Linked DNA regions of Homo sapiens: region 2 is linked to region 1. Evidence: fine-mapped expression QTL. A gene starts in region 1. The other region holds a variant in brackets. All regions are shown on one strand. Distances are between the middles of the regions.

The links. PIP is the estimated chance that this variant, and not a neighbour inherited with it, causes the effect.
Region 2: its variant is fine-mapped to the expression of SMARCA4 in whole blood (TOPMed, PIP 0.92).

The regions. Positions count from the first base shown.
Region 1 is chr19:10,955,757-10,964,715 of GRCh38, forward strand. It overlaps SMARCA4 (SWI/SNF related BAF chromatin remodeling complex subunit ATPase 4), which reads left to right and starts at 5,274. Exons shown (of 35, transcript NM_003072.5): 1 at 5,274-5,418. RefSeq lists silencers at 5,002-5,421, 5,472-5,531, 5,582-5,641 and an enhancer at 8,159-8,288.
Region 2 is chr19:11,014,347-11,030,880 of GRCh38, forward strand. SMARCA4 (SWI/SNF related BAF chromatin remodeling complex subunit ATPase 4) reads left to right here. Exons shown (of 35, transcript NM_003072.5): 17 at 4,611-4,677; 18 at 5,245-5,355; 19 at 7,379-7,621; 20 at 9,172-9,285; 21 at 9,985-10,092; 22 at 11,076-11,162; 23 at 11,954-12,000; 24 at 13,438-13,604; 25 at 16,384-16,534. Among named protein-coding and RNA genes, the nearest start is that of SMARCA4, 62 kb to the left of the region's middle. RefSeq lists an enhancer at 13,798-14,298. The variant A/G (reference allele first, on the strand shown) is at 8,697.

The DNA of each region.
Region 1 (8,959 bases):
TACTGAAAAGGTGTTTAACTTGCAGTGGCAACTGAAGTCAATGTATTTTACATTTTCATGTTCTGGACTTGGGTGAGTTGTTATTTCAAGCCCTCATCTTTGAGTAAAAGAGAAGAATCCACCTGTAATCCCAGCCACTCAGGAGGCTGAGGTAGGAGAATCTCTTGAACCTGGGAGGTGGGAGGTGGAGGTTGCAGTGAGCCAAGATTGAGCCACTGCACTCCAGCCTGGGTGACAGGGCAAGACTCCGTCTCAAAAAACAAAAAAAAAAAAAAAAAAGAAGAAGGCCGGGCGCAGTGGCTCATGTCTGTAATCCCAGCACTTTGGGAGGCCAAGGTGGGCAGATAACGAGGTCAGGAGATCGAGACCATCCTGGCTAACACGGTGAAACCCCGTCTCTACTAAAAATACAAAAAATTAGCCTGGCGTGGTGGCGGGCACCTGTAGTCCCAGCTACTCAGGAGGCTGAGGCAGGAGAATGGCGTGAACCTGGGAGGCGGAGCTTGCAGTTAGCGGAAATTGCGCCAAAAAAAAAAAAAAAAAAATCCATTCTCCTCTGGGATGATTCCCCTCCCCCACTTCCCGTTCCCTCCTCTCCCCTCCCCTCCCCTGCCCTGCCCTCTCCTCCCCTTCTTTTTTTTTTTTTTTTGAGATGGAGTCTCTGTCGCCCAGGCTAGAGTGCAGTGGTGTGATCTTGGCTCACTGCAACCTTCGCCTCCTGGGTTCAAGCGATTCTCCTACCTCAGCCTCCCGAGTAGCTGGGACTACAGGTGCTTGACACCACACCTGGCTAATTTTTGTATTTTAATAGAGACGGGGTCTCTCTTTTTTTTTTTTTTTTAGAGACAGACTCTCGCTCTGTCGCCCAGGCTGGAGTGCAGTGGCGGGATCTCAGCTCACTGCAAGCTGTGCCTCCCGGGTTCACGCCATTCTCCTGCCTCAGCCTCCTGAGTAGCTGGGACTACAGGCGCCTGCCACTACGCCTGGCTAATTTTTTTGTATTTTTAGTAGAGACGGGGTTTCACTGTGTTAGCCAGGATGGTCTCGATCTCCTGACCTCGTGATCTGCCCGCCTCGGCCTCCCAAAGTGCTGGGATTACAGGTGTGAGCCACTGCGCCCAGCTGAGACGGGGTTTCACCATATTGACCAGGTCTCGAACTCCATATTGACCTTGCGATCCCAGAGAAAGTGCTGGGATTACAGGCGTGAGCCACCGTGCCTGGTTGAGACAGGGTTTCACCATATTGACCTGGTCTCGAGCTCCTGACCTTGTGATTTGCCTGCCTCGGCCTCCTAAAGTGCTGGAATTACAGGCGTGAGCCACTGCGCCCAGCCTGTAGATGTTTTTTTTTTAAAGTCTGGAAGCCAAGGGTGTCAATGCAGACATGGGGCCAAGGTCCCAGGGGCAGTTCATTATTAAGAACTGTGCTCTTAATTGAGACACCTGGCAAATTTTGTATTGCTTTGTAGAGATGGGGTTTCACAATGTTACCCAAGCTGGTCTTGAACGCCTGTCCTCAAGTGATCTGCCAGCCTGGGCCTCCCAAAGTACTGCCATTATAGGCATGCATGAGCTACCACAACCGGCCTGTTTTTCTTTTTTGAGACGGAGTTTCGCTCTTGTTGCCCAGGCTGGAGTGCAACGGCATGATCTCAGCTCACCGCAACCTCTGCCCGCTGGGTTCAAGCGATTCTCTTGCCTCAGCCTCCCAAGTAGCTGGGATTACAGGCATGCACCACCACACCCGGCTAATTTTGTATTTTTTTAGTAGAGACAGGGTTTCTCCACGTCGGTCAGGCTAGTCCTGAACTCCTGACCTCAGGTGATCCGCCTGCCTCGGCCTCCCAAGTGCTGGGATTACAGGCGTGAGGCACCGCGCCTGGCCCGGCCTGTTTTTCTTTACACTATTGCATATTAGTGTGATTAGCATAAAAGACAATTAGAGAACAGTCATACCATCCACTCCATGGGCAGCAACCCTGCCTCCTCCATGCATTGCTGCAGGGTATTCCTAGCTCAATGCTTAGCATTTGGAGAGAGCATAAGAAATACTATTTGGCCGGGCGCCTTGGCTCACGCCTGTAATCCCAGCACTTTGGGAGGCTGAGGTGGGAGGATCACCTGAGCCCAGGAGTTTGAAACCAGCCTGGACGACATAGTGTGACTGTCTCTACAAAAAATTTTAAGAAAATTAGCTGAGTGTGGTGTCCCACCCTTGTAGTCCAAGCTACTCGGGAGGCTGAGGCAGGAGGATCGCTTGAGCCCAGGAGGTCGAGGCTACAGTGAGTACTGATCGTGCCACCGCAGTCCAGGCTGGATGACCCAGCAAGCCTGTGTCTCAAAAACAAAAACAAAAAAACAAAAAAATAACTACTTGAATGAATGAGGAATCGAGTTCAGATCCCACTTCTACTTGCTCACTTACTGTGCACTATTCAATAACACTAGCTGAGGATCAGAGAGCTAGCAGGTGGGCTACCTGCTGTCATGATTCCTCATAACCAAACAGTGGAAGTGGGAGCCATTATTGTTTCTGGTGGGTTTTTTTTGTTTTGTCTTGTTTTGTTTTTGAGACGGAATCTCCCTCTGTCACCAGGCTGGAGTATAGTGGCACGCTCGACTCACTGCAACCTCCGCCTCCTGGGTTCATGCAATTCTGCCTCAGCCTCCTGAGTAGCTGGCACTACAGGCACGCGCCACCACAGCCAGCTAATTTTTGTATTTTTAGTAGAGATGGTGTTTCACCACATTGGCCAGGATGGTCTCAATCTCTTGACCTCATGATCCACCTGCCTTGGCCTCCCAAAGTGTTGGGATTACAGACGTGAGCCACTGGGCCCAGCATTTTTTTTTTTTTTTTTTTTTTTTGAGATGGAGTTTTACTCTCGTCACCCAGGCTGGAGCGCAATGACATGATCTTGGCTCACTGTAACCTCCACCTCCTGGGTTCAAGAAATTCTCCTGCCTCAGCCTGCCGAGTAGCTGTGATTACAGGCACCTGCCACTATGCCTGGCTAATTAATTTTTTTGTATTTTTAGTAGAAACGGGGTTTCACCATGTTGGCCAGGCTGGTCTCGAACTCCTTACCTCAGGTCATCTGCCCACCTTGGCTTCCGAAAGTGCTGGGATTACAGATGTCAGCCACCGCACCCAGCCTTATTGTTTGTTTCACAGGTGAAGAAAGTGAGGTGTAGATGCTCTGGTAAACCTGCCTGGTATTACCCATGCATCACCCAGGTAGTAGAAATGGAGTCGTGTTTTAAACCCAGGTCCTTCTGGGGCCTGGCTTGGTGGCTCATGCCTGTAATCCCAGTGCACTGGGAGGCTGAGCCAGGAGGACTGCTTGAGCCCAGTAGTTTGAGACCAGCTTGGGTAACACAGCAGACCTCAGCTCTACAGAACATAACAGACAAAAAAAAAAAAAAAAAAAAAAAGCTGGTGGTGGTGGCATGTACCTGTAGTCACAGCTATTTGGGAGGCTGAGGTGGATCCCTTGAGTCCAGGAGTTTGAGGCTGCACTGAGCTGTGGTTACACCATTGCACTCCAGCCTGGGTTACAGAGCAAGACCCTGTCTCTAATAAAACAAACAATTAAACAAAAACCCACCCAGGTGAGGTGGCTCACGCCTGTAATCCCAACACTTTGGGAGGCTGAGGTGGGCGGATCACTTGAGGTCAGGAGTTAAAAACCAGCCTGGCCAACATGGTGAAACTCTGTCTCAACTAAAAATACAAAAATTAGCCGGGCGTGGTGGCGGACGCCTGTAGTCCCAGTTACTCGGGAGGCTGAGGCAGGAGAATCGCTTGAATCTGGGAGGCAGAAGTTGCAGTGAGCTGAGATCGTGCCACCTCACTCCAGCCTGGGCAATGGAGTAAGACTCCGTCTCAAAACAAACAAACAAACAAACAAACAAACAAACAAACACACAAAAAAGAAAACACACAGAAGAGGCCAAGAGGCTCAGGGCCTTCACTCTCGGAGGAAGGTTTCTCTCTTTCACCACCAGCCTGTATGCATTCAAACGTGTTCTTTGCAACGACGACTTCCGTGGCTGCCCTATTTAAAATGTCCATGATCCTCCCAGTGTTCACCTCACACTGTACTATTTATTTTTTTTGAGACGGAATTTCACTCTTGTTGCCCAGGCTGGAGTGCAATAGTACGATCTCGGCTCACTACAATCTCCACCTCCTGGGCTCAAGCGATTCTCCTGCCTCAGCCTCCCGAGTAGCTGTGACTACAGGCGTGTGCCACCACGCCCGGCTAATTTTTTGTATTTTTAGTAAAGACGGGGTTTCACCGTGTTAGCCAGGATAGTCTCATCTCCTGACCTCATGATCCACCAGCCTAGGCCTCCCTAAGTGCTGGGATTACAGGCATGAGCTACCGCGCCCGGCTAATTTTTGTATTTTTAATAGAGACGGGTTTCACCATGGTGGTCAGGCTCGTTTCTAACTCCCGACCTCAGGTGATCCGGCCGCCTCGGCCTCCCAAAGTGCTGGATTACAGGCGTGAGCCACCAAGTCCGGCCTCTCATACTGCACTATTTTGCTTATTAATCTTGCTTCTTGTCCTCCTTCCCCACTAGACCGAGGGCTCCACGGCGGCTGGGACACAGTAGCAGATCAATAAATATTTGCTAAGCTAATTAATGGCACTTGGGAAGTTTTGCAGAGAAGGCGGCCACGGTCGGGCCCCGCCTTGCCTCCCCAAATAGGCCTCGCCGCCCCAGGTCAGGGATCAAAGCGGTTCCCAGGCGCGCCCTTGGCCCGCGGGAAACCACTGCCCGGTCTTGGTCCAGGCGGCCCGTCCTACGGTCCAGGGTTCCTATTTCCGAGCCTCAGGGACCTCCTTTCCCCACGGACCCCACGGCCACCGGGATCCCATTCTCCAGTTGCCCCATCGTCACCGCGGCCGCCGCCACCGCCGCCGCAGTGGCGTCCGCTCTGCGCATGCTCCGGGGCGTCAAGACGCGAGGCGTGCAGAAGGCGAAGCGTGCGCAGGCGCGGGGCCATCGCGGCCCGAGTGGGGCGGTGCATCGGACGCGCGTGCTTCCTCCGGGCCACGCCCACCCCCGTCCGCCCAGGGACGGGCGCGCACGCGCGCCGGGAGCGGAAGGGCGGGCTGGCGCGCGCACGAGGCCGGGCAGGCGGCGGAAGCTGGAGAGGCCGCCGCGGTGCTGAGGGGGAGGGGAGCCGGCGAGCGCGCGCGCAGCGGGGGCGCGGGTGGCGCGCGTGTGTGTGAAGGGGGGGCGGTGGCCGAGGCGGGCGGGCGCGCGCGCGAGGCTTCCCCTCGTTTGGCGGCGGCGGCGGCTTCTTTGTTTCGTGAAGAGAAGCGAGACGCCCATTCTGCCCCCGGCCCCGCGCGGAGGGGCGGGGGAGGCGCCGGGAAGTCGACGGCGCCGGCGGCTCCTGGTAAGGAACGCGGGCCGCGGGGGCAGCGCGGCGCGGGGCCGGGGAGGGCGGTTTGAATGGAGCCGGGGCGCCGAGGGGGGAGGGGGCTGCCGGCGCGCCCTGTGCGGGGCCGGGGTACGGCGGCGCCCGAGGGTCAAGAAGCCCAGCCGGCAGCCGCGCGCGTGGGGAAGGCCACAGTGTCGCGAGGCCGTGGCAGCGGCGGCCCCCGCGGAGCGGCGGGGTGGGTGGGGGGCCCGGGCCGCGTGGAGGCCGCGCGATCCTCTCCGCGCGCGCTCTCGCCGGGGTCGCCGGACAAAGCTCGCCCCCCTCGCCCGGCACCCCTACAGTCGCCCTCCCAATTACAGCGGCTGCAACAATAGGCAGGCGTTGGGGCTTTTCTGGCTGCGTGGTAACGGGTCCGACCCGAATGTTGCGTTTTTGGCGAAGCTGCGATCGGGGCTCAGCCAAACCTCCAGATATGTCCGGCGTCGGCCGGACACGGGCATTAGCGGTCCCCTTGGGCTAGCCGACCTCAAATTGTCTTAAAAACGTGTCATTCCAGATTTTCAAGGAAAGGTAAAGGACTCCCCCGATGCCTTGCAGTTAGTGACTTCAAAATGTTTGCCCGAATTGGGGTTGGGGATGGGGTCGGCGGCAAGTAGGGGAGCACGGAGGAAATCCTTTGCTGTGTAAAAGCATTGCTTTTCTTTTGCATCCTTTTTTCTCCTTCCCAATTGGTTTTTCAGATTAAGGCTTTTATTTTCAACGTGGACCTTTTGGGCGAGTGTTTTGTCCCGATCTTGAAGATACCAGTCTTGATTTTTTTTTTTTTTTTTTTTGGTCAGTGACTCCTTGGGGAAAGTAGCAAGGGAATAAGCGGAAAAGCCGCTTCGCAGGAATTTGAAGCAAGTTTTCAGTTTGGATTGATAGGCTGCATTCAAGCTTGATTCCTGGTGCTGTCAGTCACTTAGCACACTGTCACTTTAGGGAAGTGGCTTAACCTCTCTGAACCTCTTAGTTTTCCTCCTTTGTGAAAGCTCCTTTGTGAAAGGGGGTAATCTCCCAAATGGAATTGGTGAAAGCCTGTAAAATGGTTCCTCGCAAGCGGGAAGCACTATTGTAATTGTCTGGTCCAATCTCCCTCATTGTTCAGCAGATAACTTCTTGAGGCCCTACTAAGTGTTGGATGGTCGGGGGTTGGATCCTGGAGCCTCTGCAGTCTTGGAGGGGAGCGGGTGGTAAATGTGGGAACAAACTCTCTTGGCCTATCGTTTATTGCTCTGAACCTGCACTGTGAGAGGGACACAGCGGACAGGCAGGGGATCGGTGGTAGCCAGAGATCACGGGGGCTGCTTGGAAGAGGGGGCCTCAAAATCAGGGAGGGTGTGTAGGATTGTATTTTGTTTTTGAGGCAGAGTCTTGCCTGTCGCCCAGGCTGGAGTTCAGAGTCCCAATCTCCGCTCACTGTAACCTCCGCCTCCTGGGTTCAAGCGATTCTCCTGCCTCAGCCTCCTGAGTAGCTGGGACTACAGGCGCCCGCCACCACGCCTGGCTAATTTTTGTATTTTTAGTAGATATGGGGTTTTACCATGTTGGCCAGGCTGGTCTCAAACTCCTGACTTAAGGTGATCCACCCACCTCGGCCTCCCAAAGTGCTAGGACTACATGTGTGAGCCACTGCGCCAGGATTGTATTTTGACTTTCCCTGGCCACCTCGGACTAGCCATTGTTCCCCTCAGCTACATTCATACATCAACTTGGTCCTTTCCGGTGTAGCTGTCACCCCCAGCACCGTGAGAGCTGGGGTTGTGTCTGCCTGGCTGGCCCCACAGTACCCTGGGCCTGACACATAGTAGGTCTTTAGCGAACTTATGTGGATTGAATGAGGGGGTCCTGTGGAAGATCGCGTGACCATCTGTGTAAAAGGCTTGGTGCAGGGCCAGGTGCAGTGGCTCATACCTGAAATCCCAGCACTTGGGGAGGCTGAGGCGGGAAAATTGCTTGAACCCGGGAGTTTGAGACTAACCTGGGCAACATAGTGAGACCTCATCTCTACAAAAAATACAAAAATTAGCCGAGTGTGGTGGCATGCACCGGTGGTCCCAACTACTCAGGAGGCTGAGGTAGGAGGACTGCTTGAGCCAGAGAGGTGGAGGCTGCAGTGAGCCATTCTTGTGCCCCTGCATTCCAGCCTGTGCACCAGAGTAAGACTGTCTCAAAAAAAAAAAAAAAAAAAAAGAAAAAGAAAGCTTGGTGCAGGACTGGGGGTGGATTGTAAGGGATACAGGTTAGTTGTTTGAACAGTTTTTGCACTTTCCAAGCCATTGTTTCCTGAACCTCAGTTGTCCTCATCTCCCCTACAAAGTGTGGGGTGGTGGTTAGCGTGGGGTGGTGGTAAGGAGTACTCATTCTGGAATCAGACCTCCTGAATTCACACCCAGCTCTCTAAATCGTAGCTTAACCTCAAGCGAGGCGCTTAGCAGTAGGGCCCCCCACTTGTGAAACAGGTAGGACGAGGATGCCCGAAACTTCACAGGCTTCTTGTGAGGGTTGAATGAGGTCACATGGGAAGCCGCTAACACACTGCTGCACCTGATGCGTAGTGAACACTTGATTTTTTTTTTTTTTTTGAGACGGAGTCTCGCTCTGTCATCCGGGCTGGAGTGCAATGCCCCTGTAGTCCCAAGCTCCTTGAGAGGCTGGGGCAGGAGGTACAGGCTGCAGTGGACCATGATTGAGCCACTGCACTCCAGCCTGGGTGACGAAGCGAGACCCTGTCTAAAAAAAGGAATAAAAATTAATTCATGCATAGTTAGGAAAGTAATAAATGGTTTTGCATGGGCCACCTAAAATCATTTTGTGTCCAGCCCTTTAGGAGACGTAAATGTTGATCGTGCAGGCTTTTGAGCAGGGGAGGTGATGTCATCAGAATTGTGATATAGGGCAGTGCAGTGGTCTCTAAACTTCTTGTCAGTGAGGAGCATTCCAACATATGTGTATTTATTTACAATTTATTTGTGTACCTTTGCTTCTCCTTGGGAACCCTCAAAACACCAGGAGATAACCTTAGACCATTCCATGTTTTGGCTGTTTGTGGGAGGTGGGAGCATGGGAGGGACTAGGGTTTTGGGCAGATGTCTGGTGGAACTTTCTTTCTTTCTTTCTTTTTTTTTTGAGACGGAATCTTACTCTTGTTGCCCAGGCTGGAGTGCAATGGCACGATCTCGTCTCACTGCAACCTCTGCCTCCCGGGTTCAAGCGATTCTTCTGACTCAGCCTCCTGAGTAGCTGGGATCACAGGTGTGCACCACCACACCTGGCTAAGTTTTGTATTTTTAGTAGAGATGGGATTTCATCATGTTGGCCAAGCTGGTCTTGAACTCCTGACCTCAACTGATCCACCCACCTTGGCCCTTGGCCTCCCAAAGTACTGGGATTACAAGTATGAGCCACCGCGCCCGGCCTCTTTTTTTTTTTTTCTTATGAGACAGAGTCATTCTGTCGCCCAGGCTGGAGTGCAGTGGTGCGATCTTGACTCACTGCAACCTCCGCCTCCTGGTCT
Region 2 (16,534 bases), 62 kb after region 1:
ACCCCAGAACCCTCCCAGGTTTACTGTGGAACTGTTTCTTTCTTCTATCTCCCTGCTTCCTACGTGGCGGGTAGAACAGACTGCTCTGAAGGAGCAGGGCGTCCTTGTGCACAGCGCTGCAGGTAGCTGCACCTCCCCTCGTGGTCAGACCCAGATTGCTACAGCGTTCCTGCTGCACCTGCCTGAGCTCTGTCCCCTGTCTGTGTCTGGAGGCTGTTCCTTCCGGCTCTGCCCACCTCCTGGCTCCCCTCTGCCCTTCTTCCCCTGGAGGCTGATGGGTGCAGTGGCAGTCGCCCTCTGCAGTTCCCGATTTTCCCTCCTTTCACTTACAGACTTCTCAGATCACCATCTCTGCTGGAACGCCGCTCTCCAGGGTGCTGTTGTTTTGCAGCCTTGGTTCTTAGTTGTTAATTTTTTGCTTTAAAAAATTTTTTTAAACTTTTCATTTTGAAATGATCTCATTTATTTTTATTTTTTTTTATTTTTTGAGGAGTCTCGCACTGTTGACCAGCCTGGAGTGCAGTGGTGCCATCTTGGTTCACTGCAACCTCTGCCTCCTGGGTTCAAGCGATTCTCCTGCCTCAGCCTCCCGAGTAGCTGGGATTAGAGGCACGCGCCACCATGTCCGGCTAACTTTTTTGCATTTTTAGTAGAGACAGGGTTTCTCCATGTTGGCTAGGCTGGTCTTGAACTCCTGACCCCATGATCTGCCCGCCTTGGCCTCCCAAAGTGCTGGGATTACAGGAGTGAGCCACTGTGCCTGGCGACCTCATTCTTAGAAAACATTGTAGAGTTAGTGTAAAGAATTGCTATGCACCCTTCACCCATCTTCCCCATTCTTTCATAACCCCAAGACAATTATGAAAACCAGGAAGATAACATGGACGTAGGACTAATAGCAAACCAGAGGCCTTATTTACCAATCTTGTCAGTTTTCTCACAAGTGGCCTTGCTCTGGTCCAGGATCCCACACTGTCACGTCTGTGTGGCATGCCTGTGGCAGTTCCTCATTTCGTCTTTGTCCTGGTCGAGCTTGACGCTGTTGAATCCTGATCGGACCTTTGGTAGACTCTCCTTCAATTTGGGTTTGTCCGATGTGATCGCGTGGAGCAACACCACGCCCTGCTTGATGTGCCTTAGCGGGGAAGGCATGAGATGTTGAGGCCTTGGTGTCTCGGGCAAGGTGCCTGCTGGGTTTCCCACTGTAAACCTAGGAGTTACACTTTCCGTTAATAACTGTCTCGTGGGAACGTACTTCGACACTTGTGAATATCTCATTTCTCTTCCTACTTTCCTCAATAATTTCAGCATCTCTTCTACTCCATTTCATGTTGCCATAAAGGAATACCTGAGACTAGGTGATAAAGAAAAGAGGTTTAGCTGGGCGCGGTGGCTCACTCCTGTAATCCCAGCACTTTGGGAGGCCGAGGCAGGCGGATCACCTGAGGTCAGGAGTTTGAGACCAGCCTGACCAACATGGTGAAACCCTGTCCCTACCAAAAATACAAAAAAAAATTAGCCAGGCATGGTGGCGCATGCCTGTAATCCCAGCCACTCAGGAGGCTGAGACAGGAGAATCACTTGAACCTGGGAGACGGGGGTTGCAGTGAGCCAATATCGTGCCATTGCATTCCAGCCTGGGCAACAAGAATGAAACGCCTTCTCAAAAAAAAAAAGAGGTTTATTTGGCTCATGATTCTGCTGGCTGGAAGACTGGGCACCTGGTGAGGGCTTCAGGCGGATTCCACTCCTGGTGGAAGGCAAAGGGGAGCCAGTGTGTAGAGATCCCATGGGGAGGGAGGAGGCGAGGGAGGCGGGGGTGCCGGGCTCCTTTTAACCATAGCTCCCACGAGAGTTCAGAGAGCAGGAACTCATTCATCCCCCATCCCCAGTACAGTACAGGCCGTTCACGAGGGTTCACGAGGCCGTTCACGAGGGAGGCCCCCATGACACAGATGCCTCCCACCAGGCCCCACCTCCAACATTGGAAATCAGACTTCAGCATGAGGTTTGGAGGTGCCAGATACCCAAACTATAGCAGCAAACGTCAGATAAGTCTTGCCTGAAAAAATAATTACATGAGAGTTGCCAAATACATGGTTACCTGTTTCTGTCCGCTCTTCTCTACAAATTAATTGGAATTCCACCGTTAGGAAGAGCTTTCCCGTCTCCCCCATGTGCTTGTTTGGGTAATTATTATATCAGTGTGGGCGTGAACAAATATTATTTATTTTGTTGCTTCAGTTTTTTTCAGATTTGGCCTGGGAGAATTCTCCCTGGAAGAATTGTGTCTTCTCTATGTATTCAGTCATTTGTTAATATGAGTATGGACCCACGGATATTTATTTAGTACTCCAGGCTACGCACCAGTGGCTGGGTTTTTTTTGTTTTGTGGCTCAAATCCATCCAGCTTTGGCCACTGGGAGTGCTTTCAGTTGGCTCTTCTGTCCTTTGACACGCCCCCAGCATCGGGTGAATTTTGAGGACTTTCTTGCTTTTTGGCACCAAGAGATGCTGCAGGCTCATGTAGTCTATTTCCCGCCCACTCCCTCAAATCAGCCATTTCTCCAAGGAGCCCTGGTTTCCCTTCTTACAGAATGGTTTTGGGAACCAAGACCTGGGTCCTGGATGGGCCTGTTGCTTCTGGGGTGTCATTGCTCCTGGGGCCCTCTCAGTGGTCAGTGCTAGGAGATTCATGTGCGCGTGCTGATGCTTTGTGCACGTATCGTCTAAAAGGCCTTCTCTGCCTCGGCATCTGTTTCTGTGTTAAGCTGAACGTGAGTTCATACCACTGTCTGCGGCTCTGAGTGAGGACCACAGGTTCCTTCTCACACTTCCACCCTGTGTGTGCGCCCATTCTCAGCTTCCGTGGACAACAGTTTCAGAGTAGTGAGCCGGTACCTCCGGGAAGCATCTTGAGCCACTAGAGCGCAGGCCTTGGGGCCAGTTCCTTGTGTGTTCAGACCTCCAGATTGCAGTCAGATTCCATTTCCAGGGTGATAGAGGTCACCTTCTTCCCCTACTTCAGTGAGGTTGTGAGGTGGGTGCTCCTGCAGTCTTTCCCACTGCGCCCCACCTGGGCAAGCGTCCATGCTGTGGAACGCCAGCTCCTGCAGGCCAGAAGAGGGCCCGCGCGCTAGGAAATGTTTACGGCGTATGGGCATCCGGCTGTGCCGGCCCTCTCACTGGGAATTGCTGCCTCCTGCCATGAGCTGCTTGTCCTGCCTCCGTTTGGACCTCTGTCTCTGGGACCTGTCCCCTCAGTCCCCTCCTGACCCTTGCTCCTGGCTCTTCTCCCTCCCAGTGCAGATGCTCCGCACACCTCCGGCTTCTCCCTTGGTGCGCTGACTGTCCCCATCACTCCAGGGAGGTTTCACTGTTCCTGAGTCAGCGGAAGCACAGGGTCAGGCCCTACGGGCCAGGTCCGGTGGCTCCAAGATGCCATCAGGGACCCAGCCTCCCCCAGGTTTCTGCCCAGTCATTCTTGGGTGACTCCAACCCTCAGGCTCCTTACCTCATGGTTGCAGGACGGCTGCACTGCCTCCCTCGCCTCATGCAGGAGAGTGGGCAGGAAAGAGTTCTAGGAGAGTGGGCAGGGCAAAAGGCAGCAGAAGCGCAAGGCTGCTGAGCCTCTGCTCCCCACGCTTCTTCAGGAACTCTCCCCAGCCTTCACCACAGCCATGCGTCCTTCTGTCTATTGGCTGTGCCGCCTGGTTGGCTGTGGCTTCCAGCGGGGCTGGAGATGGGTTCATGGTGGACACAGCACCTCCCTCGTGGAGCTGCTTGGGGGCAAACCACGAGTAGTCCCTGGGACTCCAGCTTCGAGCCCTGTCTTTACGGACCACCCCGTCTAGACTTTCTGAGTGGCTTCCCTCCCCCACTGAAAACTCCCTGCCCCAGAGTTCCTCCCAGAGCCCGTCCCCTTTGGGACTCAGCTTTATTACCGCCTCCACCCTCTCCTCAGTCTCTAGGCTGTCGGTCTCAGGTGACTCACCCCTCCCCACTGCATTCTGCCTGCCCCCATGTCCTCCCTCATTCCAGCCCTGGTCATCCCACAGGGGAACAGCCACGAGTTGCCGCTCCCTCCCATCCCTGTCCTCCCGCCTGCCACCTGAGCCAGGCCCCGCCTCGCCCCTCACTGTCCTCGTTCTCTCTCACAGTCAGGAACCTTCCGTGGCTGGAGGGTGGCAGAAAGACTGTTTGGTGTCTCCTATATCCTCAGGTCTCCACAGCACTGTTGCTAGCCTGGCTCTGGGCGTGAAGCCTGTGCTCTGAAGCTGCATTTTCCCGGCAGCAGGTCCAGGCTTCCCCAGCCCTGGCAGCATTGTTTCTGTCCCCCATCACATCTCTGTGTCCCTACTTCTCACTCTAAAGGGCCTTGCCCTCTTTTCCCAGTGGCCTCCCTTCTGTCCTCTGAGGCAGAGCCCTTCACGTCCTCGCCAGTCTCTCTTCCTCCCTCCCTCCCTCAGCTGCCCTAAACACAGTTTCTCTGCCCACTCGGAGGGCTGTGGCCATGTTGGCCTCGCCCCTGACAGCCAGTGGCTATGGGTTTGCACAGTGAGCCATTGATGAGAGACCGGCACTTGACTCTCATTTCCTTGTTCCATCAGAACGCTGTCCAACTGGGCGTACGAGTTTGACAAGTGGGCCCCCTCCGTGGTGAAGGTGTCTTACAAGGTAGGTCACAGCCACTGAGGTTTCCTCTCTTGCTACGGAGGTGCAGGCGGTGGTGGGCAGGACGTCCACACATACCTCTGGACAGTGAACCTGAGAATGCTGGGTCTCCAGTCGCATGGAGTCTCCAGGACAGCCTGGAACTCCAGTCACATGGATCCGGGAGTTTGGACTGGGCAGGGACAGGGCAGATTAGCTCACTGGGGAGGAGACAGGAGTGAGCATGGTGGCCAGCACTCAGAGGCCAGCTCAGGCGCCTGAGATGGGGACCCAGGAAGAGGGGAGCCTGTCAGCCACCAGGAATGTGCAGATGGCGGTGCAGGCTGCGTGGTTCCCTCAGGCCCCGGCCGCCGCTGGCCTGCACTGCTTCCTCTTCCCCCTGCAGCGCGTGTTCTGCGTGGTGAGGTCTGGGGACGCGCCAGCGGCCCTGCCAGCCCCTTTCCCCACTACCCCTGTGAGGACGAGCCCTCCCGCCGTGTCACTGGGCAGTTGCAGGGGGTGCCTGTGCCCCTCTTGCCACCTGGCCACCCGGCTCCAAAAGCCGAGCTGTGCATCCTGCTTCCCTTGCAGGGATCCCCAGCAGCAAGACGGGCCTTTGTCCCCCAGCTCCGGAGTGGGAAGTTCAACGTCTTGCTGACGACGTACGAGTACATCATCAAAGACAAGCACATCCTCGCCAAGGTAACGTGTCCCTGTGGGAAATGCCAGGCCATGGGCCGAGTGCTCACACGTGGGTCACGCTGCCCGTCTCCTCCAAAGCCCCTACAAGTTTCTTCCCGGAGTCCCACCTGCATGTGCGTGAAGACAGCTGCCCTGTGTAGGGGAAAGGCCTAGGTGGGGGCGACCTCAGGTTTACCTCCCTAACTGTCTCCAGGCAGGCCCTGAGTCAGGCCCAGAAGCTGGGGCCATCTACACAGCATGCGCTCTGCCTCCTCTCGGGCCTTCTGCCCAGAGAGCCTCAGCACCAAGGCGTCTCCTGACCCGCCTACAGAGTCCCCATGGGGCCTTGGCCAGACCAGTCTTGTCCTCCTGTCTCATTGCCTTGGCCGTCCCTCCCTGGGGCCCTGGCTTCTCACCACAGGCCATGGGCTGAGATTCAGCATGTGGGGGAGAGCTCGAGGGCCAAATACCATGACTGCCTGCTGGCCTTGGGCAGCTGGTTCGGGCTGTTCTGTGAGGGTCCTACTGTCCTGGAAGCCTCTTCTGGGACGAAACTGTGAAGGGAGTCCCAGCGTGGCCATGACTGAGAATACGGCCCAGATAGAAAACAGACATAGCCCTCTGCCTCCAAAAACTCATGTTCCTCATTTGAGGAGGGGTAAAGATGTACCTGGTCTCACCCCTAAACATCCAGCTGAGTGAGTGTTGAACAGTAGAGAGTTTTTTGCGTTTTGGTTTTTTTTTTTTTGAGACCGAGTCTCGCTCTGTTGCCCATGCTGGAGTGCAGTGATGTGATCACAGCTCACTGCAGGCCTGACCTCCTGGCCTCAAGCGATCCTCCCACCTCACCCTCCTGAGTAGCTGGGACTACAGGTGTGCGCCACCACTCCCAGCTAACTTTTTTAAATTTATTTTTTATGGAGATGGGGTCTTGCTGTACTGCCCAGGCTGGTCTCAAACTCCTGGCCTCAAGGAATCCTCTCGCCTTGGCCTCACAAAGCACTGGGCAACTGTGTCTGGCCTAACAGTAGAGTTCTTGACCCAGGTATGGGGGGATGGAGGAGCTGTTTATGGGTGGCTCCGCCTCTCAGTGCATGGCTGGAGTGACAGTACTGGAATACTGGGGCTGTGAACTGGGTGTTTTCTTTTCTTTTTCTCTTCTTTTTTTTTTTTATTGAGACAGAGTCTCACAGCTGTCACCCAGGCTGGAGTGCAGTGGAGCGATCTCAGCTCACTGCAACAACCTCTGCCTCCTGGGTTCAAGTGATTCTCCTGCCTCAGCCTTCCGAGGACTGGGTGCTTTATCCCGGAGCCAACAAGGGAGGAAACTGAGGCCCAGGGAGCTGGGTATCCCACGTGCAGGCTCTTACCTCAGGTCCATGCTTCAGGTGCCTCCTTTGTGGCTCACCCCTGCTGACTCCTTACAAAGCCAGGCCGTTGGCAGGCACAGGAACCAGGCTCTGAAACCCCGTGCTCCCCTGCCAGTGGCTCAGTTGATGTAATCACCCTGCAGTGGGAGTGCTCTTTGAGTGCGGCCACTGCGCCCCCTCCCGACCCGCATGGCCCTGTATGTAGTGGCGCTGGCCCCTACCCCATGGGGCCCACATTCTGAACCACAGGCTGCTCATTAGAAATGTACCGTCACCAACCCAGTTCCCCTGAGACCCTCCACACCAGCAGGACAAGTCCCCCAGTCAGCAAGATGTGTCTTCTGCCAGAACGTGCTCGGCATTTTTCTGTGCTGTAGATTCATATGTGTGATTTTGCAGGGAAGCCAGATTGCTTTTTTGCAATTTGCATTGTTCACCTGCCAATAGTCATGGGGTCACGGGCCTGTCTCTGCCCAAGGCTTGCAAGAGGCTACGTTGTGTGGCTCCAACTCGGTGAGTCAGCCCCGGGGCAGGACGTCAGGCCTGTGCTCTCCACCCAGCTGCGCTCTTCCACCTGGAGCCTTCCTGGCTGCTGGGCGCAGAGTGGGAGATTCTCCCCATGTGCCGGGCCACCTGCTGCCCCCTGCCCTGATTGCCCACTCTGGGGCCCGCAGATCCGTTGGAAGTACATGATTGTGGACGAAGGTCACCGCATGAAGAACCACCACTGCAAGCTGACGCAGGTGCTCAACACGCACTATGTGGCACCCCGCCGCCTGCTGCTGACGGGCACACCGCTGCAGAACAAGCTTCCCGAGCTCTGGGCGCTGCTCAACTTCCTGCTGCCCACCATCTTCAAGAGCTGCAGCACCTTCGAGCAGTGGTTTAACGCACCCTTTGCCATGACCGGGGAAAAGGTGGGTTTGCCCAGCTGTGCCCATGCTGACGGTTCCAGGTGCGGCTGGCTTTGCTGGTTGGAACGTGTTGAGCACCAGCTACAGCTGGCTGGGCCTGTGCTGGGTGCCTGGTGAGAGTCTGCATCTGCATGGAGCAGGGGAGCCCTGGAACCCAAGGCTGGGGCAGCCACAAGGGCCCCAGGGGAGCAGGGCAGAGGTCATGGTGGTGAATCTCGGAATGCTCGGGGCGTCTCTGACCCTATGCTCCAGGTGCAGAGTGGATGGTGAGGAAGATGGCCCTGAGGCAGCTGTGGGACCGCAAGCGTGTGGAGAGCACAGCTAGAGGCTGTAGCGTGCTGTAGGCCCCTTTAGGTGCCCTCAGAACTCACCCTCAGGGCAGTGGGAAGGAAACTTGGAAGATTCCAGTTAGCGGGGCCACATGGTCAGGTTCTGTCTTACGTTGTTTTCAAAAAGCTCAGTGGCCAGTGTGTCTCAATGTCTGGGTGGCACCATCAGCCAGACTGTGGCATGGCAGCATCATCATTGATGAGTGGTCCCACACCAGCACTGATCCCTGAGCCTAGAGCTCCTTGCTGTTGGAGGTTGAAACTGTGGGACAGACTGTGTTTCCTGCTGAGGGGTTTAAGTAACCAGATGCTGAAGTGTGGGCAGAACTACAGAGGTTACCTCGAAGTGCCCTGCCCAGCACGGCTGGGCCCACCCCCTTCTTCCCACCTTAGACAGGTCCAGGGCAGCTGGGGCCTTCCTGGCCTCATGCGTGAGTTCCCTGCCCTCTCGGCTGCTGGTCAAGGCAGAGACTCTTCTGATGGCGAAACCGAGGCATTCCCCAAAGCCTCGTGATAAAGGAGTCCCCAATTTTTAGACTCCCGGGACCCCCACACTAAGGGCCAGGATCTGATGCTATAGTTTTGTCACTTTCTGAGCCGAGCAAAAGCTCTGCCAAAGGATTGCCAGGGAAGCAATAGAAGAAAAGTTTTGGCGTCGTCTCATTTTCCTTTAACTTTTTTAATTAAAACATTTTAAAAGTTAATTATTAGTAGAGGAGTAGGCGCCGTGGGAGGTCAGGGTTTCTTTC[A/G]CCTGGTTCCACCCAGGCTGAATGAGAGTCCCTTGGGGCTCCCGGTGGCAGAGCCCTCCCTGAGAATCACCCGCTATAAGCCCCATGTGGTCAGCCTGGCCCCTGCAGCGCTCCTGGCATGAGCTTGGCGTGGGGTGGGTCTGTGGACACTCCAGTTTGTGTTACTCGTGGAGAAGCAGCATGCCCGCTGCCGGGGGTCTTTCTGGTGAGGCACAGGGAGCAGAGTGCTCTGGGTACTGCGGTTCCATGTCCCAGGAATTACATGGAGGGAACCAGATCCTCACAGTTTCCTAAGGAAGAGGGTGCCCTGCCTGGCTCCCAGAAAGCATAAAGCAGGCTGAAAAGCCACGTGCCAAGGGCAAGATCACCCCAGGGGACCCCGTCCACCCTGTCCCCACATCCGCACCTTCTAGTGAGACCTCTGTCGCCCTCCTTTGGAGGTAACGCTTGCTTCTCCTGTCTTGGGGGCTTCCAGGTGGACCTGAATGAGGAGGAAACCATTCTCATCATCCGGCGTCTCCACAAAGTGCTGCGGCCCTTCTTGCTCCGACGACTCAAGAAGGAAGTCGAGGCCCAGTTGCCCGAAAAGGTGATGGAGTTTTGAGGGGAGCCACCAGTGAAGCAGCCTCACGTGGGGGCTTTCTCCAGGGCTGGGCGTGCTCAGGGCCTCTCCCCACAGTCCCAGGCCTGCCCTGGTCAATCCAGCTTGGGGGTGGCGATGACGCCACTGGGTCTGTAAAGCCCTGTGCTGCTGTTGTAGGGATTGAAAAGCACTCATAGGCTCACATAGCTCACAATAGGTTAGAGCACAAAATCCCACTTCCTGTCAGGGGGCCAGGTGCCTGTGCGGGCTCTCCTGGCCACATCAGGAGGGGCCGTGGGCTTGGGGTTGCCCCCCGGCCCCCCATCATGGCTCTGGGTTTTCAAGGCCTGCTGCAGCCACACCCCTGGGCCCAGTTCCCACAGCAAGACCCATGGACTCGGGGTCCCCGGCTGCAGTTGTCCCTCTTGGCTCTTTGTTTCCTGGCTGGCTGTAGAGAGGCCCCCAGAAGATGGCTGGGGGGCCCTTTCTGGCCCAGTAACCCTCTGGTATCTCTGCCTGGTGCTTCCTCTCATTGCCCAGGTCTCCCCTCTTCTCCCCAGCTGTGAGGGTCTCCTCACCCACACCCCAGTGTGCTCTGGTCAGAGCTCATATGACAGGGCCGAGGGGGTCAGAGCTGGGTTCGGATGGGGGGAGTCAGGCCTCAAGCCACCTTGGGCCCTCGTGAGCATTATGTGTCCCCTGCAGGTGGAGTACGTCATCAAGTGCGACATGTCTGCGCTGCAGCGAGTGCTCTACCGCCACATGCAGGCCAAGGGCGTGCTGCTGACTGATGGCTCCGAGAAGGACAAGAAGGTGGGCCCCAGAGTCCCCCAACTGCATTCCCCACTGGGTGTCCAAGGCCGGCAGCGTGGCAGGCAGAGCAGAGCGTGCTCTGACCATCGGGTCATGATCTGGTCATGATCCCCAGGGCATCTGGCCAGCCCTGGTTATGATGGCTGGTGGCTTGTGTCAGGACACACTGACTCAGCTGCCAGTGGCTTCTCCTTTGCCTATGAAACACTGGCTCCTTCTGCAATTGGCAGCCTGGGCCCAGCACTAACCCCAGCAGGGTTAGAGTGTTCTAGAATGCCCCCCTTCTCTGTTATTAAGTGAAAGGAAGGGAGCGGGCTGTCTCCTGCAGGGGCTGCTCTGAGAATCCCAGGCCCCAGGCCCCACCTGCCTGGCTCTCCTCACCAGCAGTGAAATTATCCTCCCAGGAAATGCACCAGACCCCTTGATTCTGCCCCCAAGGCCTTGACCTCGGCCTGGCTTCCCCGAGACGTTGTGTCTGTGCCCCTTCTCCCCTGAGCTGAGCAGCAGTGTGTTCCCTAGTCCATTCCCAGCCCAGAGCATGCACCCCCCGCCCCGCCCCCACCTCCTTCCTCATCCTGGAGCCCAGGGAGCCCTGAGTCATGGCTCACCCGGCTGAGGCCCTCTTGCCCAGCTGAGACCCTCTAGGGACCCCCACAGTAACAGTGCCCAGAACAAAGCTGGCATCACAAAGCATCGGGGACTCTGCCTCAGCCCTTTGCCAGTCTTGTTTCCGTCCCGTCCTGCTGGCCCTGTCCCTGCCATCTGCCCTCTGCTGTGCCAGGCAGTCATTTGTTTCCCAGGGCTTGTTGGGGGCCTCCGGGCCTCCAGCCTGCCATCTCCTCACTCCCAATTGCTGTGCCAAAAGCCACTCTTCCCCACTAGAGCGTCCCCATGGCCCTTCTCCCAACACCCACCCATCCACCAAGCCCACCCCACCCCAGGAGGGCAAGACCCCATTTGGGTCCCTCTCATCTGCCTTCCAGGGCAAAGGCGGCACCAAGACCCTGATGAACACCATCATGCAGCTGCGGAAGATCTGCAACCACCCCTACATGTTCCAGCACATCGAGGTGAGCCCGCCGCGGCTGGGACGGCTCAGGCCCTGCTGTCTGCTGAGCTCCTAGGCAGAGCTGGCTTCTCCTCGACAGCTCTTTAAAAACAGACTCGAATATTTTCATTAGGTAATGCCTGTACATCTGTCTCTCATTTGGTCTTCGCTTCACCAGTGCTTACGGGAAGAATCCCAGCAGTTAGGGCGCAACGTGCGATAGGAATATAGGGCCCTGAAAGCTTGCCCTCAGAGAGCAGGAGCGTTTGGAGACTTCTCTGGGGATGTGTCCCCCCACAGTGGGGTCCTGCTGCGTCTCTTTGGCTCACTGGCTTTTCTCACGTTGCGGGGCGTCAAGAGTCACCACCGTCTTCAGTGAAGTGTGGGGGAGTCAGAACCCTTTTTGGTCATGGTGGCTTTGAGAATCTGGGTTCTTAGAAGCATGCATATGTTCGTGTTTCTTGGTGTAAAGTGTCAGGGTCGTTGGAGACCGCCTGCTGCCCCGAGAGCCCCTGGGGCTGTCTCAGCACCCTGAGCGTGGCTGTGGCCCCATGACGTCCTCGTGCATTCAGGGTGTGAAGAGTGCTGTATGGGATGTCCTTTCCTTCGTTGGAGGAGTGTGAGGGAAAGGATGTCAGTGGACTAAGAAAGATGGTTTTGGCATCTGTGTCTGGTCTCAGAGCCGCCGTGGGCCCGTGCCGAGCACACAGTGTGGGGGCTTTGTCCTCTGAGCACGAGCGGTGTGTGCGGACCGCAGCGGGGCCCGGTGGCCTGCTCCTGCCTGTCACTGACCCCTCTCTCCTTGCCTTGCAGGAGTCCTTTTCCGAGCACTTGGGGTTCACTGGCGGCATTGTCCAAGGGTGAGAAGCTTCCCAACTGGATGGGGTGGGCAGGTGGTCCACCCAGAGGTTTTCTGTCGTTTTGTTGGCTTTATTGCTGCTGTTATGTTGTCCAATTTCAAAGGCAGAAAATTAGAAAATACAGAAGAATCCAAAGCAAATAATACAAATCTTTTTTTTTTTTTTTTTTTGAGGTGGAGTTTTGCTCTTGTTGCCCAGGCTGGAGTGCAGTGACACAATCTCGGCTCACTGCAACCTCTGCCTCCTGGGTTCAAATGATTCTCCTGCCTCAGCCTCCCGAGTAGCTGGGATTACCGGCACCTGCCACCACCCAGCTAATTTTTTGTATTTTTAGTAGAGATGGGGTTTCACCATGTTGACCAGGCTGATCTTGAACTCCTGACCTCAAGTGATCCACCCGCCTTGGCCTCCCAAAGTGCTGGAATTACAGGTGTGAGCCACCGCGCCCGGCCCCATTATACAAATCTTTAGTGCTTGGAGAGCTGACCACTATTAACCCCAAGAGACAGGATTCCTGAGGCAGACCTGGCTTACAGATCCCACTCTGCCGCCTCCAAGCTCTGTGACTCTAGACAGCTTTCTTAACCTCTCTGAGCCTAAACTCTGCTCACTAGTACAGAGGCACTCTTTACATCATGTGGGTGTTTTCTATAGCACCCTTTGTAAGGGGCAGCCCAGACTCCTTTAAGCCCCTAATGGATGTGGATGCTGTGTCTAGATTTTCACCATTGCAAAGAACCTTGCTAAAAGCATTCTTCCAGCTAAAGCCTCCATTCAATTCCCCTGGGGTAGTAAGCCATTTGCAAGAAGAGAGGCGCCTAATGAAAACATCACAAATTCTTTTTGATGTGTTTTTTTATACTGAGTTGTGGAACAGGGTCCTGTACACCTGGCTTCAAGGCTGGGAGGCCTGGCTTGGACATGTGGTCAGCCATATCACGTCGTCCCCCTGCCAGCCTCAGTGTCCACATCTACAACACTTGGGGTTTGGCTGGAGAGAACATGAGAAGCCGAGGTGGCCCTTCCTTCTGGGTCTAGCAGAGCATGGGTGTCTCCAGTGTGGCATTTGCTCCTGGGGCTTCTTTATCGGGCAAGGGGACAAGGTCTGGCTTCCCGGAGCATCCCTGTTCCAGCCCCGTGTTGTGCCGGCCATGTGACTCACAGCTCCTCTCATTTTCATGAGTGTCTGGGTTTGACGAGAAATACATGTGCCACCCTGGTGATACGCCTCCCCAGCGAGGGTGGCCGGGCTTATTTCAGTTGGGGGAAATGGCTTTGCTGAAGCTTTGGGTGGGTGACGTCTGCTTAGGATGCATGTCTGTGCCCTTGAACCCGGCGCCTGGCCTGGAGGCGGGCGATGCACCTCCTGCCTTACCTGCCTGCAGGGTTCCAGGTTTAACATCCTGCGCCTTCTCTCCTGCCTCCTCCACACTCCAGGCTGGACCTGTACCGAGCCTCGGGTAAATTTGAGCTTCTTGATAGAATTCTTCCCAAACTCCGAGCAACCAACCACAAAGTGCTGCTGTTCTGCCAAATGACCTCCCTCATGACCATCATGGAAGATTACTTTGCGTATCGCGGCTTTAAATACCTCAGGCTTGATGGTGAGTATGAGCCAGTGAGGCGTTTCTTACAGGGTTTTGTTGTTGTGGCTGCCACAGAAGCTCCTCACTGGCATTCCCTCCTGTGAGGCAGGGTGAGGCCCAGGCGCTCTGGGTCCAGTGGCCAGAGTGGGCCTAGCCACAGGCTGAGCATCTTGGGCACTCGGCACTGGGACAGGCCGTGGATTGGACGCCGGGTGTCCTGACTCCTAGGCTGACAGTCTTTCCACGACAATGCTGGGCGCACTGGGGAAGGGGTGCCCTGTGCACTTTTAGCTGGAAGTGACAGAATTCCATACCATGTGGACACAGGAAAGAAAGCACCAATAGGCTTACATAGCTCTAACCCCAGGAGGTTAAACATCCTTCAGGCACAGCTGGATCCAGGCATGCAGGTGATATTGGAGAGACTTTTCTCCAGCTCTTTGCTCTGCCTTCTTCCATCTTGGCTTCCTTTCCACCTGCTCAGTGTCCCCAACAAAGGCAGGTCCCAGGCTGGCTCTCATTTAGCTGCTGTGAGCCGCATGCCCATCCCTGGGCCATTCGTAGCAGCCCAGTGACTGCCACCTTGCCACAGGTCAGGCCTGGACCTGGAATCAGACTCTGTGGTGAGCACGGAGGGAGGGAAGCAAGCACTGCCAGGCAGGAGCAGCAGCTGCCGTAGAGAGGCTCTCAGCCCAACCCCCTGCCCTGCGGTCCCTGATGGGAAAGGTCACCGCCTGTGTTTCTGCGCCTGCCTGCCCCAGCACACGGGAGCTCAGGGAGGAGAGGCTGTGAGATGCCGACAGGGCACGTGAGACATGTCTGTCAGTCCCAGTGGGTCAGGGAGCCCTGGAGTGAGTTCTTCGTGGGAGTTACTAGAACTGGGCTTACGAGAAACACGAGCATGAGCTGCTGAGACAGACACGGCTCAGCCAGTTTGTTGTTCCCTACACGACCTCCCAGAGCCTTTGTTGAAGCTCCTGTGCAAGGTCTGTCTCACAGCAGGACACCCCAGACCTCCATACCCCTTGTCCCGTTGATCACTTGGACCTGTGTTTGCTGGGCCAACCTGCCCAGGTGCCACCCGGAGTGTGCCCTGTGTGTCCCTCCAAACTGCAGGTCCTCCCCGGGGTTCTGTCCAGGACCACTCTACAGACACGAGTCTGTTGCAGGGGTCTCCCCGGCTTGCCTTCTTCCTTGGGGGCTTCCCACTTTCAGCTTTGAGGCTGAAAACCAAAATCCTTCAGGGTCCTCATGGCCGGGCCACCCCCCACCCTTTCCTCTCCTACGGTCTCTCCAGCGGCTTCTCCCGTCCTCGAGAGGGCCAAGGCTTCCTGAGGGCCATCCCGTCTGTGTCGTGTCCCTGACTCCCCCAGGAGAGAGCCTGGTTCCCACCCATCCCAGTGCCCTTCTGCCTACTCCATAAGGACAAGGACTTTGGTCAGTTGAACTACAGATGTGTCCTCTGCATGTGATGTGGTCATGGCCACAGGGCCAGAGAATCCATTGCGAGTAGAGGAAGGGTAGGAGCTCAGTGAAGTCTCCTGAGACTGCATCTCCCATGGGTGGGCTGGCATCTGGGAGCCGGGTGGCCCCTCACCTCAGCCCCTCCTCCGAGCTGGAGTAGCAGGGGCACATCTGGTGCCTGAGAGAGGGTGGGACGGCAGGTGGATGGCCAGGCTACTGTGGGCTTCTGCACCGTGCCTGGGCATGTGTAGGCTGGTGGCAGGAAATGGCCAGTTTTTATTTCTTCTTTTTTTTGAGACGGAGTTTCACTCTTGTTGCCCAGGCTGGAGTGCAGTGGCATGATCTCAGCTCACTGCAACCTCCGCCGCCTGGATTCAAGCGATTCTCCTGCCTCATCCTCCCTGGTATCTGGGATTACAGGCGCCCGCCACTACGCCCAGCTAATTTTCTTGTATTTTTAGTAGAGACGGGGTTTCACCATGTTGGCCAGGCTGGTCTCGAACTCCTGTCCTCAGGCGATCCACCCACCTCAGCCTCCCAAAGTGTTGGGATTACAGGCATGAGTCACCGCGCCCGGCCTGCCAGTTTTTATTTCATCACCAAAATGACTTCAGTGTTCAGGGGCACCTCTGTCCGAACTCCCAGCAGCGCAGGGAGTGTTGACATTGCCTTAATGCCCACAACGCTGAGGGCATCGTGGGTTGTCACCCAGGAGACCTGCTCTGGCTCCTTGACTTGGGTTTTCTGGGGCATGGGGACACTGATCCTGCCAGAAAGGACACGAGCCCCCTTTATAAGGTCTCCATGCTTTTACCGTAGAAGATTCTCTTTGTGAACCACAAAACTTTTTGAGACAGGGCTGAAGGCAGGTGCACCCACAGTCACTGTCCACCCACCCCCAGGTCCCTTGTGTTGCGAGCGGCGGTGTTGCCGGCATTGGCCGCTGTGTCTTCCGCTCCCCATGGAATGGCACAGGGTAGAGTAGAGGAGAGAATCCAGGGCTGTGGTGGTGGTGGCTGTGCTGACGCTGGACGCTGTGGCCTAGCTGTGGGCTGGGTGCTGGACTCTGTGCTCCAGGCCCACCTCCTCTAGTTCTCCCAGCGGGGCCTGTTTTCATTTCTGGGATGTGTGGAGAGACGTTTTGTGGTGAAACACTGGAAATCCAGTTATTCGCCAGTGGCCCACAGGCCCGTGTGGAGAGTGCGGAGCCAGGGATCTGGGGATGCTGGCAGGTGCTGATCCTGCTCCTGCTCTCAGAAGCAGGTGTTCCTTGGTGTCCCCACTCTACCCCTGAGGTCACCCCGCTGACCCTGTTCTCCTCTGTGCCCGTCAGGAACCACGAAGGCGGAGGACCGGGGCATGCTGCTGAAAACCTTCAACGAGCCCGGCTCTGAGTACTTCATCTTCCTGCTCAGCACCCGGGCTGGGGGGCTCGGCCTGAACCTCCAGTCGGCAGACACTGTGATCATTTTTGACAGCGACTG